Regions from separate parts of the Homo sapiens genome. Here region 2 is linked to region 1. The links come from fine-mapping of genetic effects on gene expression. A gene starts in region 1. The other region holds a variant in brackets. All regions are shown on one strand. Distances are from middle to middle.

Region 1 (4,400 bases):
CACAATGCACACTTCTACATGCACATGTACCTTGCATATTAGATGCATAATTACATCTGCCCCACTTAATTTTCAGATGCTCTCCGAGATGGGTGGGGGGTGCAATGGCACAGAAATGCATTACGTCGTCAGAGTCAAGGCCCCACTGACAATGCGGGTGCTCATTAGTTAAGCAGATATTATTAGGCATGTTTACCTGAGAGGAGAGGAACATTCTGTGAAATAATAAATCTGCTGGTTTCTATTCTTCTCCCTTTGCAGACTGAGTTTTTATTATTTTGATCCCAGTACCCATTAGAAACACAGTGTCTAAATATTGAAATGCTTTGCTTCAAAAGCTGCTAAGATACAGTGGCAAAGGTAGCCTTGCAATGAGGTTTTATCTCCAGAGTCCCAAGTTTTTGAGACAAATCCAATGACGCAGATCTTGTGGTCAAGGATGATGCAATGGCGCTCCAGGAACAATATCAGGCTCTGTGACTTGGGTGCCTTCTGGGTGTGTGGCGTGGTCTCGGTCTGACAATCTCTAGAACAACCCTACGAGGTGGTAATTATTATTCTCATGCTGCAAGGGATATCTCCCACCTCCTAGGTGGACTCAGGTCTTGTGGGGCTTAATGCTTTTAAATTTGGGCTGCCTTTTGAAGGGAAAAGACTACAAAATTATGAATACAAAATGAGGTTAAGGTCTTGGGAGGGGCCCATGCAAGCTGGGGGCTCTGCAGGTAAGCTTGTTTAGCTTCCCAGCAAATCCACCTCTGAGCTTGCAAATTACAAAGCTGGAATTTGAACTCACATCTGCTGGATGCAAAGTCCGAGGTCTTCCTGTAGCATGACCGTCTTCCTGTGTGATGAGAAACATCAGGCTGCCGAGGCCAAACAGTGGGTGCGTCACTTTCCAATGAGGCAGGTGTGCGGGACAGGAAGTGGGAGGTTCTCCTTGCAGGGGAGCGGCTGCTGCCAACATCCCAGCTGGTACCTGTCCCTGAGAATGGTTTGGCAGGTGGGGGCCACTTGAAGTCTCTGCTCCTACACCCCGTCACCCCTCCCAGGCTGCTTTCAGAGGAGGGCAAAGGGTATTCATTCCAGCCTCCAATTTCTTCCTCCCACTCCTCGAAAGCATTTAAGTGAGGAAGGCAGGGAAAACGTAGATGATTCTGCTATTGACAGGAGGCCTTTTTTTCCTGCTGGAAGTAAAAGGAGACACTCTAGCTGGGCAGCCAGCCCCACCCTCCAGGGCTCCATCTGGCCTGGCTGAGGCTGGCCAGCCCCTGCTGTGCATGGAGGGGTGCTGGGAAGCCTACCTTGCTTCACACTTTCCTCTTCCACACCCGGCCTGTGACTCATGCCTGAAACGCCTCCGTTCAAGCAATTCTTCCTTTTATTGTGAAGCACTGCTCTCTTCCGGCTCCTCCCCTAAGTCACCACGCAGGGGAGATTTAAGGGAGAGGTTATTTCCCCACCGTGTTCAGGGACAACCCTGTGATCATGGTTTTGGTCACATAGCTTCCAAGTGAGTGTTGTGCAAACATTTGCTAGGATCTCTCGGGGAGCCTGTTAGAAAAGAAACTCCTGAGCCTGCTCCAGAGCTTCTGTTCAGCAGGCCTGAGGTGGGACCATACACCTGTCTTTTCAGCAAGCCCCCCCCCACCTCTGAGGATGCACCCCAAAGCTAGAGAATTCCTGCTCTGAGCCATCTCTGAAAGCACCAAGAGCCAGGTTTGGTTTTTTGTTGTTGTTGTTGTTGTTGTTGTTGTTTTGTTTTTTTTTTAATTACACCCAGACCTGGGTACCTGAGCAATCACTGTCTCTGGAATCAGTGCAAAGTTACCGGGAGCTGCAGAGGCCCAGACAGACTGGAAGAGGGGAGAGCTTGGCTCTAACCCATGCAGCCTCCCCATTGCCCAAGTCCACCCCCAGACCACCTCCCTGCATTCAACCACGAGCTTTGTAGAGGGCAGGCATGCCCCAGGGGCTCTCAGCATCACCCCCCTGCCCCTACCTGTGACCAGAGTCTCCCTGGACTCTCAGCTCTGTCTTCCCAACTCGAAGAGCCTGCCAGGCCCCACCTGGGTACCCTTGTCCATACTGTAGCTTGGAAACCCTCTCAAGAAAGGAAGCTGGGTTAATTGCAGGCTCACTTTATTTTCCACATTCTCAGAAATCATTGTGCCTAGTTACCTGATATCCAGTGTATTAGTCTGTCCTCATGCTGCTGATAAAGACATACCCGAGACTGGGTAAATTATAAGGAAAAACAGGTTTAATAGGTTTAATGGACTCACAGTTCCACGGGCCTGGGGAAGCCTTACAATCATGGCAGAAGGTGAAAGGCACATCTTATATGGTGGTGGACAAGAGAGAATGGAACCAAGTGGAGAGGGAAACCCCTTATAAAACCATCAGATCTCGTGAGACTTGTTCACTACCACGAGAACAGTATGGGGGAAACCACCCCCATGATTCAAATATCTCCCACCAGGTCCCTCCCACAACACATGGGAATTATGGGAGCTACAATTCAAGATGAGATTTGGGTGGGGACATAGCAAAACCATATCATCCAGTGTCTTGAGAACTCTTGTTTTATATATTTGGTCCAATTTATTTTGACTTTTTCAGGCAGGAGAGGAAATCCAGTCTCTACATTCCGTCTTGTTTGGGAGTGAAAGTGTTCATTTTCTTTTAAAACAGACAATATCCTTCCAAATCTATAGTTAGTTCACTCATCCATCACTCATCCATAACCACTGTTAATATTTTGGTCTACATTCTAAGATATTTTTTTTCTGTGCATATGCGTGCACGTAGCAGGGTCACAAAATCACTCACAATACATCAGATGTGCAAAGAAAATAGAGTGTCTTCATTTTCCTACTTAATTAATCTGATCTTTCTTGAAAGGTACTCTCTGCTGGGTAATACAATGGGGAGAAACATCCATTCTAGTAACCTTGGTCTAATACAAACATTTAACCAGTTCTTTGAGCAGCTCAGCATTCTGAGGCTGAAGTGTTTGGCCAGTGGGGCTTCTGATGGCTGCCACTGTCTACTCCTCTACTCCAGATTGTGTCTGGGCACACAGCTGGTGGGCTGCAGGATTTGGGGGTTCTTTTGGTAGCCAGGAGGAAGGGGTCCTCTGGTCCACACATGTTCTCCAAGTTTCCCTGAGTTTGGCTGCAGAGCAGTTGGCCTGGGCTACTCCATGGAACGGAGTGGTGGCTGTCGAGGAGCAATGAGTCATGGGAGATCAGGTCACGTAGGGTCTTGTGGGCACTGCGAAGACTCTGGCTTTATTTTTCTTTTTTGAGACAAGGTCTCGCTCTGTCACCCATGCTGGAGTGCAGTGGCATGATCTTGGCTCACTACAGCCTCGACCTCCCAAGTTCACGCAATCCTCCTGCCTCAGCACCTCAAGTAGTTGGGATTACAGCCATGCGCCCCTACACATGGCTAATTTTTGTACTTTTTGTAGAGATGGGGTTTCACCATGTTGCCCAGGCTGGTCTTGAACTCCTGAGCTTAAGTGATCTGCCCACCTTGGCCTCCCAAAGTGTTGGGATTACAGGCATGAGCCACCGCACCTGGCCAAGACTTTGGATTTTATCCCAAATGAAATAGGGAAGCCACTGGAGGGCTTCAATGTGGTGGTAGGAGGCAAATACTGATTGAAAAGGTTCAAGAGAAAATGGGAGGAGAAAAATTGAAGATAATAAGAATAGATACTTCCAGCTGGGTGCAGGGGCTCACACCTATAAGCTCAGCACTTTGGGAAGTTGAGGTAGGGATTGCTTGAGGCCAAGAGTTCCAGAGCAACCTGGGAAACATAGCAAGACTCTGTCTCTACAAATTTTTTTTTTAATTTTTTTTTTTTTTGACAGAGTCTCGCTCTGTAGCCCAGGGTGGAGTGCAGTGGTGCAACCTCAGCTCACTGCAACCTCCACCTCCCAGGTTCAAGCAATTCTCTTCATTCAGCCTCCTGAGTAGCTGGGATTACAGGTGCCCGCCAACACACCTGGCTAATTTTTTGTATTTTACTAGAGACAAGGTTTCACCATGTTGGCCAGGCTGGTCTCCAACTCCTGACCTCAGGTGATCCGCCCACCTCGGCCTCCCAAAGTGCTGCAATTACAGGGATGAGACATTGCGCCCGGCCTACAAAAAATTTTTACAAATTAGCGGGGAGTGGTGGTGCACACCTGTAGTCCCAGCTACTAAGAGGCTGAGGTGCGAGAATTGCTTGGGCTCAGGAGATCGAGGCTGCAGTGAGCTGTGAGTATGCCACTGCACTCTGGCCCAGATGGATACTTCCAAAGAGTCTTGCTATAAAGGAGAGCAGAAAGGGAGAGAGAGATTTTATTAGTCCGTTCTCACGTTGCCAATAAAGACATACCCGAGAC
Region 2 (4,400 bases), 810 kb after region 1:
ATGCACTTTGGGAGGCCAAGGCGGGTGGATCACTTGAGCCCAGGAATTTGAGACCAGCCTAGGCAACATGGTGAAACCTCATCTCTACAAAAAATACAAAAAAATTAGCCAGGTGTGGTGACATGAGCCTGTGGTCCCAGCTACTAGGGAAGCTGAGGCAGGAGGATTGCTTAAGCCTAGAGGTCGAGGCTGTGGTGAGTTGTGACTGCGCCACTGCACTCCAGCCTGGGTGACAGAGTGAGACTCTGTCTCAAAAAAAAAAAAAAAAAAGGAAAATAATCCTTGTTTCAGCAGTATACACTTTAATGTTTAGCATGTGCTGTTCCCATTTTTTTCTCATTCATTTATTCACTTGTCATTGATTCATCACTGATTAGCCAATAATAATACAATCAGTACCCATGGATTAGAAAAACATAAAATTGAATATTCCTCTCATTGGATTATAGCAGTGCTGAGCAATAAAAAATATAATGCCACCTACACGAATACTTGTAAATTTTCTAGAAGCTACAATATTTAAAAAGTAAAAAGAAAAAGATGAAATCAACTGTAATTGTGTATTTTATTTAGCCCAATATCTAAAATACTATCATTTAATAAATATAAATAATTCTAGAAATATTTTACCTTTTTCATATTGAGGCTTCTAAACTCGGTGTGTATTTTTCCATGTAGATCACATGTCGATTAGACTAGTCACATTCCAAGTGCACAGTAGCTCCAGTGGCTAGCACTGATGATACTAGACTGTGCATGTCTATAATCTAATTTCCCACAGAGATAATACACTAGATCTCTTCCTATAACGCATCTCAGTATGACACACATGGATCAATGGATCAATCAACATTCTTCATACATAGCAATGCCACAGTTATCACTGGCCCATCCTTAGCCCTCTTTCTTTTAATTTGTCTATATTTCAAAGATGACACAATGAGCTACTATAAATCCACCATCTTCTTGCCCAATAGAATACTGATAATTACTTTCAATCTTCCTTTGTGATACCCTCTTAAGCAGTTAATGGCATAGGTGTATATCAATGGAGGACTGTTTAAATCAACAGTGATGTAAAATGTATATGAATATTAAACTGCCAGCAGCACAAATAAAATAGCCTGACTGTACTCTTAATAGAAGTGGTGTTGAATTGGATTAATCATGAACACTGATTCATATAACATTCTCATCATTGGTCCATGCATGTTCTGCAATATTTTAATATGTAGAGCTATTTATTTCTTTTAAATAATACAGTCAACATCCATGAGCAAATCATCCAAACCAAGAACAAGGACCCTGACTGTCCTGTCATCAGCCTCCATGCTCCTTGCCCACAGAGAAAGCAGCCCGGCCCTCATCATTACAGAATAGCTGATCACCTGCGGTGCACTCACTCTGTAGAAGAGAAAGCAGGTGTGAAAAGGTGTGAAAGAGACTAGATTTAAACTTTTTAAAGAAATATTAAAATTTTAATATACTGGATTGACCATAATCCTTGGCTTGTGCCACATTCTCAACATTGGTCCATGGCTGGCCCTCTTTCTCACCACTGACCCACAATTAACACTTCATTCTTAATTGACTTAATCAATTGATTATTTTAATTATTAACTTAATGAACACCATGGAGTGAATCACCTAAAATAAAAATGAGAATGATGACCATTACAAACCCCTCTCTATGTGTCCCCACTTATATGAGTGACAGGCCCAGGTAAGGAGAGCCCACATCATCTGCCCAGCAGGACTACGGAGTTGCCGTGGGGTGGCACTGCTCAGTGCCTCCTATTCTTTTTGTAAGTGGGAGTGGTTCTTGTGACCTTCGTGTCTATAGAATATTTACCATATAGAAGACAGATAACCTATTTATTTAAGGTCTTTGAATTTTAAAAATGTATTCACTTATTGATTTTTATAACATAATCAAGTAAAACACCACGAATCTACCATCAAAACCAAGAAAAACAGTAGTATATTATAGAGATAGATAGATATATAATAGATAGGTGGGTAGGTAGATAGATAGAAAGATAGATAGATAGATAGATAGATAGATA[A/GA]TAGATAGATAGATGAATAGATAGATAGATAGATAGATAGATAGATAGATAGATAGATAATCTTTTCATCCTTAACCATAACTGGAGAAACAGAAACCTTTACATAATGGACTTCATCTGTTGAGAAATGTATGGATATAATATTTGGTTCATGACACACTTTCATCACTGGTCCATGCTTAGGCTTTTATTTAACTTTTGTATTTATGTATTCATATTTAATATTCAAAAAACTGCCATGAACCAACCACCTAACACAACTGACTAATGTAGTAGCTTTAAAATTTGACTGCCCCACTGGATATCAGACTTGCATGGGCCAGTAGCCACATGTGACTATTTAAATTTAAATTAATAAAAATTAAGTAATATTAAAAATTCAGTTACTCATGAACGCCAGCCACATTTCAAGGACTCAATAATCACATGGACTAGTAGCTACCATACTGTACAGAACAGATTACAGAACATTTCCATCACTGCAGAAAGTTCTACTGCGGACGGGTATGGTGGCTTGCACCTGTAACCAGCTGTTTGGGAGCCAAGGCCGGTGAACTGCTTGAGCCTAGGAGTTCAAGACCAGCCTGGGCAACATGGAGAAACCCTGTCTCCACAAAAAATACAAAAATTAGCTGGGTATGGTGGTGCACACCTGTAGTCCTAGCTACTCAGGAGGCTGAGGTGGGAGGATCACCTGAGCACAGGGAGGTCTAGCCTGGGCAACAGAGTGAGACCTGTCTCAAGGCAAAAAAAAAAAAAAAGAAAGAAAGTTCCATTGGGCAATACTAGAAAATACTCTTAGGTTATATTCTAGAACTTTTTCTAATGAACCTAATTGGATTAATCATGATCTCTGCTTCATGAAACATCATCATTGGTTTATGCTGACACTCTTTTATTTGATTTGATCATTTCTAAAGAAGTTGCAATGAGCAATCATAAATCCAATCTGTTACTCCACTAATAGAACACTGACGTCATCTTTCATCTCTTTGTGTGCTCCTTGGTCAGAGTAAATAGCCCAGATTTCTATTTATGGGCAAACGTGTAAATAAACTATGTTCATGTACAAAATGAAATACAAAACAGCTGGTAAAGGAAGTGAAACAGGGTAGGTTATTTGTGTGGCAGTCAGAATTTAATTAACTATAATGCTTTCATTCTTGGACCATTCTCATCACCAGTCCATGTTTTGGCCTTTTGTTTATTTTACACACTTAGGTAATTATTTATTTATTTTTAGTACTAAAATCAACATCCAACATGCCACCATGCCAAAAAAAAGAATATTAACTGACTCTTTAACCAATGCATTTTTAAAGGGACCTTGGATGAACTGAATTGGAATAATCATAATTCTAGGATGATGAGTGTTGTACTTTCTTCTAACATGGTCTTGAGGTCTGTCTCAAGAGAGTGAATATAAATTCTAGCTCTGCCTGATGGGGATGCAGGAGAGGTGGTCATGGGTGTTTACAGCGTATCTTTTATGGGATACGTCTTTATCCCAGCAGACAGTCTAATGCCTAAGCATCCTATCCATTACCAGGTGTCCCTCTCATAGGAAACTCATTTACACTGGCAGTACCCCTGTGGTTCTTGTCTGACCTACATCTAGTCTATTCCTGCCAAGATAGCCATTCTCTAGGAGATCCCTGACCAGGAAAGAAGTTCAATTCAAGTGTGTTGGTCAGGTGAGACACAGAGGAAGCAACTCAACAAAACACATGAAATGAAACAACAGAAGCAGTTTATTACTTACAGATCCTGCATGCCTCACAGGGCCAGCGGGAAGGGGAAAGCCTGTATTGCAGGCTATGGCATTTCCCAAGCAGGTTTCCTGCAGAGAGTTCTCACTGGTGCATTTAGAGCAAGCCACTATATCTGTGTGGTCCACATAGGCTGTGGGGTCAGTGTATCTAGCTGTTTTTTAGGGAGGCAGTATCCTGGAGGTGGCTGTACAAGGCAGTTATCTGGATCTAACATATTAAGAACTTGGAGGAGGTGGATAACTGCAAACTGTGTCAAGGGTGACTAAGCCTGCTTCTGGAATGAGAAAGTTAAACTTAGGTTGAAAACGGATGCTGAAGCTACATAAAAAGAATTTACGACAATGAGATATGATCACCTTTGTCCCATGTTTGCCCTCTCTTGTTTTATTCATGTGTTTGTTCATTCATTCATTTACTCATTTATGAACACCCTTAAACAACTCTCCAGCCAAGATTTAACAACATCAACTATTAATTACATTTTCTTTAAGTACCTTATCTACCCAAGTAAGAGTCAACATTCTCATAAATACTGCATGACTATATAAACTATGATTTGTCC

Evidence for each region. PIP is the estimated chance that this variant, and not a neighbour inherited with it, causes the effect.
Region 2: its variant is fine-mapped to the expression of LINC00239 in Th1 cells (Schmiedel 2018, PIP 0.95).

Annotation. Positions count from the first base shown.
Region 1 is chr14:101,728,373-101,732,772 of GRCh38, reverse strand. It overlaps LINC00239 (long intergenic non-protein coding RNA 239), which reads right to left and starts at 2,336. Exons shown (of 4, transcript NR_026774.1): 1 at 2,286-2,336; 2 at 1,305-1,416; 3 at 797-985; 4 at 248-537. LINC02320 (long intergenic non-protein coding RNA 2320) reads left to right here and starts at 1,467. Exons shown (of 6, transcript NR_184269.1): 1 at 1,467-1,719. RefSeq lists enhancers at 770-869, 1,600-1,659, 702-1,901.
Region 2 is chr14:100,914,384-100,918,783 of GRCh38, reverse strand. All of the region lies in intron 9 of MEG8 (maternally expressed 8, small nucleolar RNA host gene), which reads right to left. Among named protein-coding and RNA genes, the nearest start is that of MIR370, 5.4 kb to the right of the region's middle. The variant A/GA (reference allele first, on the strand shown) is at 2,067.